Linked DNA regions of Homo sapiens. The protein of the gene in region 1 purifies or fractionates together with the protein of each later gene. This does not show direct contact. Each region holds a gene or a part of one and is shown on either strand. Other genes may lie near its edges. The genes, in order: CHN2 and ELMO2.

The links.
Region 2: the proteins of CHN2 (region 1) and ELMO2 purify together in Homo sapiens (affinity purification with mass spectrometry, with the first as the bait; one large-scale study listed by BioGRID). This does not show direct contact.

Annotation. Positions count from the first base shown.
Region 1 is NC_000007.14:29,509,115-29,512,937, forward strand, and holds part of CHN2 (beta-chimaerin), read left to right. Parts: intron 1-186; coding exon 187-292; intron 293-1,070; exon of another isoform or gene 1,071-3,449; coding exon 3,450-3,621; 3' UTR 3,622-3,823.
Region 2 is NC_000020.11:46,382,358-46,386,180, forward strand, and holds part of ELMO2 (engulfment and cell motility protein 2), read right to left. Parts: coding exon 3,767-3,823; intron 1,138-3,766; coding exon 1,059-1,137; intron 1-1,058. UniProt on the Homo sapiens protein: Involved in cytoskeletal rearrangements required for phagocytosis of apoptotic cells and cell motility. Acts in association with DOCK1 and CRK. Was initially proposed to be required in complex with DOCK1 to activate Rac Rho small GTPases.

The DNA.
Region 1 (3,823 bases):
CAGCCTCAAACTCTTTCCTGAATGACACAGGACACCAACAAATTGATTAAGTGAAACAGTGCTTGGATTGCATGAATTTATTAGAATCCTTCCCCACTTCTGGCTAAAACAAAAACTTCTTGTTACTTCTCTGAAAACTTGAATGCCACACTCTGAACTAATACCCATCATGCGTGAACTTCACAGAAATCTCCAATGCAGATGAGAGGCTGGAAGCCGTCCATGAAGTGCTGATGCTGCTGCCTCCTGCCCACTATGAAACCCTCCGGTACCTAATGATCCACCTCAAAAAGTAAGCTCATGTCTCGTGCACAAAGCCTGCTCTGCTCCTAGAGCGGTTAATGCATGAGGAAAAGTGGACGGCATTCCTCCCCAGCCATAACTGCTGGAGTTTCACTGTGCCAGGAACCACTCCAGGCACTTTCAGTGTATCATCCCTATGAAAGGGGCGCCACTGTGATGGCTCACGCCTGTAATCCCAGCACTTTGGGAGGCCGAGGTGGGCGGATCATGAGGTCAGGAGATTGAGACCATCCTGGCTAACACGGTGAAACCCTGTCTCTACTAAAAATACAAAAAAATTAGCCGGGCGTGGTGGCAGCCGCCTGTAGTCCCAGCCACTTGGGAGGCTGAGGCAGGAGAATGGTGTGAACCCAGGAGGCAGAGCTGGCAGTGAGCCGAGATCGTGCCACTGCACTCCAGCCTGGGCAACAGAGCGAGACTCCATCTCAAAAAAAAAAAAAAAAGAAAAAGAAAGGGGTGCCATTAGGGGCCTTGTGTCACTTGTGAGATTGCTGATGCCTGGGGAGGTTACACAGCTGATTTGAAGAGGTGAAGGCAGGATCCCAGGCAGGCTGATGTACAGCCTTTAACTACTCTGCCTCCGTGTCTGCATCTTCATCTGACACAAGCCCTGTACTCTGTGTCCTGTTCATCCCCCTGTTGCTTGCCCCTTTCCAGGCTCCTGAGACTGCCTGCCTCCTGGGAGAGCACATTCCCAGCCTGGTCTCTTATTTTTCTGGATGTGTGAGTTCTCTCTCATTGAGTAACAAATTGCTCCCGAAACTTAGTGGCTTAAAACTGTAAACATTTATTATCTCATAGTTTCTAAGGGTCAGGAATCCAGGTGTGACTCAGCTGGCTGCCTCCAGTTCAAGGTCTGTAATGAGGCTGCAGTCTTATCTGAAGGCTTGATGGGTCTGTAATCCCAGCTACTTGGGAGGCTGAGACAGGAGAATTGCTTGAACCCGGGAGACGAAGGCTGCAGTGAGCGAAGATGGCACCACTGTACTCCATCCTGGGCAACAGAATGAGACGCTGTCTCAAGAACAAAAAAATTCACTCCTGAAGGCTTGATGGTGGTAGCATCCATCTCCAAGCCCACTCACATGGTTGTTGGCAGGATTCAGTTCCTTAAAGGCTGTTGGACTGAAGGCCTCACTCCCTCACCAGCAGTTTGCTGGAGGCAACCCTCAGTTCCTTGCCATGTGCATTTCTCCATAGGCAGCTCACAAAAAGCCAACAGGCTTCTCTCAGAACAAAAAAGCAAGAGCACCCAATATGAGAGACAGTCTTTTTGTAAGCTAATCTCAGAAGTGACATCCTATTGCTTTTACCGTGTTTTATCTGTTAGAAGCAAATCAAGTCCATCCCATACTTTAGGGGAAGGGATGCAGGGTATGAATTCCAGGAGGCATGGATCGCTGAGGTCCATCTCAGAGAGTACCTGCCACACACACAGCTGTCTGCGTGAGTGTGTGGGAGACAGAGATGGAGACGTCTGGATGTTTATGGGACACTAGAACCTCTGGTGACACTATTCTCCCTAAACCTTGTGTCTCTCTCTTTCACTGCACATGTGTAATGAGGTCGATGAATTGGTGTTATAACATTGGAGGGATCAGGGCACATCTGTGTGCCTCTGTGTTTTTGAAAGATACTTGGCAGCAGCCCATTCTTTGATAAAAATAAAATGAACCGAAAATTGTCTACATTGACCAGTTTACAGATCTACTTAGTATGTGAAAAGAAGCAAACGGAGGACTGTATAAACAGTAGGTATTGAGATTTTTATTTTTCTACCTTATAAGACATACAAGAAGACATACAATATTGTTGCTCAGATTCAGGGTGATGGTAACATTTAGCTCAGAATATTCCCATTCTGATTAATTTACTGAATTTAGGAGTGCAAGTAATTTTTAGATAATAAACTATGGGTATCACATCTGGCTTTCAATTAGCTGTAAAATACTTATTGTGATCAATATCCAGTTGTTACAGTTTGGAAGGCAAAGTACCACTACCAGAAAAATGCTGACACCTTTCAGCTGAACCTTAAATGCCAATAATACTGTATCTTTATCATAGTGGGTTTGCCAGCCATCTTGTTTAGTCAGGCATAGTGCCTGACTTAAGAGGAAACTGTGGGCACTTTGATGGTGAGAAACGTCCTCTTTCCAACCTTCTTCTTAGGCTTTGTGGCATGTACATGACACAAACTGGGTTGACCTTAAAATAATACTCAATGGCTAATCCTAATGAGTTATAAGGAAATAGAAAGGGATGGCTTTTTATGCACAACCTAAACACATTTTAATTATATTTTCCTAAACACATTTTAATTATATTTTGCTCATTTTTGGAGAACCCATTCCCTTTTACATCTATTATGAACATTCTAAAACTTAAAGTTGTGAAAACAAAACTCTGGGAGATAGATAGATTGTAATTTTATTCCATGAGGAAGGTGTTAAACCAGCTTTGCAGTTTGAATTTTATTCTTAAAGGCTCTGCAGTTCTTACCTGGATGTCGAAATGATTTTTAATTTCAACTGCTGTAGACCTCATCCTGTGGGAACTAGAAATAATGTCCAACTGCCGTCCAGTCTGGCGACATTCCAGCCGTTCCCCCACCCCACGATAACGGCCTGACTCTTCCTCAATTCATGACAGCCCATTCTACACATAACCTTTCTCCTCTGGCACCGGTCCTCCCAGCAGAGAGGGATCCTGCCCTTCCCTTCCCACTCTCCAGCATACAGACCAGCAGGAAGCCACAAGAGGGAAAAAAAAAACGCCTTCTGTATAAGGCCTATGAAAGGACCATGGGCCAGCCTCAGAATCTGCTGCCCCTACAAACCAGTATTCCTCAAATGATAGTTCCACATTTACTTAATAAGGAGGACTAATTTTCTAATTTTAAAAATTGTGTTCCTGCCAGATTCACATAAGTAATTCATTTCCACCGGCGAAGGCAATGTCAACAATTTAAAACGAAAAATCAGTAAATTACCCTTCCAAAAATACCTTTCTGCTGTTCTGATTCCCAATCTTTTTCTTGCAATTTCCTGAACCAGAGATGTTATCGGGACTTACATACATAATCAATACATAAAATCAATCCTCAAGTCTCCATAATGTCTCTGTTCTATATGTTTGTTTTGCAGGGTTACTATGAATGAAAAAGACAATTTCATGAATGCAGAAAATCTGGGGATCGTGTTTGGGCCCACTCTGATGAGGCCCCCTGAGGACAGCACCCTGACCACCCTGCATGATATGCGGTACCAAAAGCTGATTGTGCAGATTTTAATAGAAAACGAAGACGTTTTATTCTAATCCATCAGGGAAATGAGCTGAATGGCCCCAGCACCATCCAAGTTGACACAGCTAAAGGAATAAAAACATTTCTTACCACTTGATTTGTTTTCCAAGCAAGTGCTAGAATTTCCTGGACTGCAGAGGATCGCTGAGTGGGGTACTGTGTCTCATAGACATGCGCCACCTCCACGTGAGAACAAGGGTGAAGGTGAGGGAAGCC
Region 2 (3,823 bases), on another chromosome or scaffold:
ACAGACAGAACCACAGATGCTTCTGGTCTTCCCTCTAGAATCTACCAAGAGCTGGGTACATACATGATCCCACTTGAATTTCATCTTACTGAGCCCATGAGATTGTCAGAGAACTAAAATGTCTTACTTTTAACACCACTTGGGCTTTTCTCAGAGAAATCTAGAATGTTAGTATTGGAAGGGCTGTCAGAGATCATTTAAACTGGCCCTTTCATTTTACAGAAAGAGAAACTGAGACCCAAAAAGAGGTTACAAACACTTGTCCAGCCAGCAGCAGGGAGAATACTTAGTCCCAGGCCCCTCGGCTCTTAGGTCAGTGTTTGTTCCACCACCCAGCTGATTCTTAGTTTCCTTATTTGTGAAACAGGGATCTTGTTTTTCCTCAGACATCCTTGTGAGGTAAACAAGGCAGATGTTGTTGCTCCCATGTGACAGGTGAGGAAACTAAGGTTCACAGAGGCAGAGCTATCTGCATAATGTCACAGTTAATGAACAGGGGAAGGAAGATGTTTAGAATCTCCATCAGAGAACCTTTAAACCTAAGATTTAGTGTGAAATCCCATTCATATTGGACTCCTTGGACTCAGGGTAGCCACAGGGTCTCCTCTTCCTTATTCTTGATTCTGTAACCCAGGAGTTGGCAAACTATGGCCATATTAGGCCTGTTGCCTGTTTTTGTAAATAAGATTTTATTGGAAGACAGCCATACCCATTCATTTACCTACTGGCCGAGGCTGCTTTTGGCTACAATGGCAAGGTTGAGTAGCTATCACATAGACCATATGGCCCATAAAGTCAAACATATTTATTCTCTGGCCCTTTAGAGGAAAAAGTTTGAAGGGCCCTGCTCTCATCTAAGACCCAGCTGGTTTCCCCTCATAGGTCTTCCCTGGGTCTTCCTTAGCAAAGCCACCCTCCTGGGCTCCAGACCAGACAGCTAAGAGGAAGAACTCTTGGGAAAATTGCTGGATTTGTGCTCTCTGCATAGCAAAGAGTGCATGGGGTGAGAATTATCTCAGAAGAGCCCAGATGAAAAATGTGAAAAGGCAGCCACAGACCTGTCGTTTGTCCTCAGGAGCCTTCAGAAAAAGTGCATTAATCAGTGCAATGGCGTAGGTCTGAATCTCCTGGTTGGAGCTGTGTCAATGGAGAAAGAAGAGAGAGGGAGATTAGAAGACTGAACAGCAAGATGATGCTTAGAAATGGTTTAAAACAATCACTCACAGATTATAAGCAAATAATGATCTGGAGCTCAGTCTCAAAAGCATTCAAAGTGGGCATGCTCTTGACCCAGCAATTTCACTAATAGGAATTTATCCTAAGACAGTAATCAGAGAGCTATGCAAGATTTACTGACAAGGCGTTTCATTAAAGTACTACTTAAAAAAGAATGGAAAGTAATCCAAATGGTCACATTAGCCAACATTTATACATATGAGAATCTTAAGTAGTTATTAAAAGTCATGTTTTAGGGTAAAGATTCTTAACCTGGGATTCAGGGATGAGCTTAGAGTATTTGTGAACCCCAGGAATGATACAGAAATTATTCTATGTAGTTTGCCAACTAAGTGGTATTTTTTCCAAACTGGTGAGAGTATATACTTGTTACCAGATTTTCAAAGGTGTCTAGGTTGCAAAAAAGACTTAGAACTACCCTTTTAGAAAAATCTTTGACATGGAGAAATGTTCAAGGTGTATTATTCAGTTAAAAAAAATCAAGGTACACATAGTATATATAATGAGATCCCGATTTTGTTAAAAATATGCATAAAAATACTGAAGGGACATTCAATTTAATGTTTAACAGTGGGTATGTCTGGAGGTGAGATAATGGGCAAATAATTTTGCGTTTTTCTGTATTTTTAAAGTCTTTGACTATAAACTTATTTTATTATGAACAAACAAAATAACTACAATCATTCTCTGGAATCTTACAATCCTGGTACTTGACATCTCCACCTGCCATGTCTTGGGTGCATTCTGTGGCTGTCTTTCCAGAGGGTCTGATGGGCTTCCTGGTTAGTCACATGGTACCCAGGGAGTCTAACAGAGGGCACTAAGTATCCCTCAGCCCAAAAAGGAAAGCATATAAGTTCTGGTGACAGCTGTGGGCTGAAAGTATTGGCTCCTATGAAATGCCATGTTCCCCTATCATCCCTAGGGAGGCAACTGGGGCCACTCTGAATTCAGAGACAAAAAAAAAAACCAGAGAAGTAGATGTGAGGTTACAGGAAAATCAGAATTCTCTATCTGGAGTTTATAATGTCCCTCTCACCTTAATCAACCTTGGTGGCTCGCTGGGTATGAAAGCTGAGGCTAGACCAGGCATGGTGACTCACACCTGTAGTCCCAGCTACTCAGGAGGCTGGGGTGGGAGGACTGCTTGAGCCCAACAGTTTGAGACCAGCCTGGACAACACAGCGAGACCCTGTCTCTACAAAAATAAAAAAAAAAAAAAAACTAGCCAGGTGTTGTGGAGTGTGCCTGTGATTCCAGCTACTCGGGAGGCTGAGATGGGGAGGATCGCTTGAGCCTGCAGTGAGTTATGATCATGCCACTGCGCTCCAGCTTGGACGGCAGAGTGAGACCCTGTCTCAAAAAAGAAAAGCAAAGAAAGCTGAGGCTGAAAATTCCTTAAAAGTGACAAGGAGAAATCAGAGTTGCAAAGAAATAATTGTGCTTTCTTTTTACTTGGATTAGTGGGGAAAAACAAGTTGGGAGCATAGCTGAGTGAAGACAGGGCCACTATAAACTCCCAAATCTGGGAGCTATGACTTCCCCTCGAACTGGTGGGGGATTCTGGCAACATTCTGACAATGTCTAAAAAACAGAAGTGAACAACAGTCAGAAGAGAATCAACAGGAGTGCCACCACTGTTTTGCAAAGTCCAGCTTCCTTACATGGTGTAGGTTGGTTGGAAGTGAGGTAAAAACAGCGGAGACGGGAGAAACATTGCTCCAATGGGTTCATTTGTCATATGGTCTCAGTATCTGGTAAAATGTTTTAGGATGTGATAAGAGTCTTAACAAACAAACAAAGGAAAAAAGCCCCTGAATTTACTGAATACCTAACCCAGGTTGGCCTCTATGCTGGACCTTTTTAAAATCTCCTTTGATCCTCACAGTGTGAGAGGTGAAGGTGATTAACCTATTCTAGAGATGAAGAAACTGAGGCCAGAAGAGACTAGGTTACTTGCTGATGGCAGAGACCTAGTATGCAGAAGAGCCTGGATTTGAACTGATATTCCAAACTCACACCTGTGTGATATTTCTTACAAATCACCCACAGTGCATCGTCGGTTCAGTGAGCATTCATTCAACAAGCACTAATTGAGCCTCTACTTAAATCAAAACAGGGGATACAACAATGATTGGTCTCTGTTTCAAGGGGGCTCTATGTTCAAAATGGGCAACAGATAATAAAAATCCAGTATTTTATATAATTATCATAGGTACAGAGACTACTGGGCCCATGTGAGAAAGCATCTAATTTTGCCTGGTACCACCCTGGTATGGGAAGACTGGGAAAATCTTCATTTTAACCTAAGGGGCAGAGAGAGTTACAGAGGATTTTGGGCAGGAGCATGACATGATCAAGTCTGAATGATGGGAGAAATTCTGGCAGGAGTGTGGAAGAGGTGATGAATGAAGAAGCCAACCAACAGCTTGGAATATAAGCAAAGGAGAGTAGGATTGGAAGACTTAAAATAAGAGGAGAAAAGAGGACAGACAAGTGAAGGGAGGGAGGTGTAGGGTTTTTTACTCACACCTGGAGGTGTGAGATGAGCTGTCCCACGGTGATTTCCTCGGCTATCTTCTGGTAC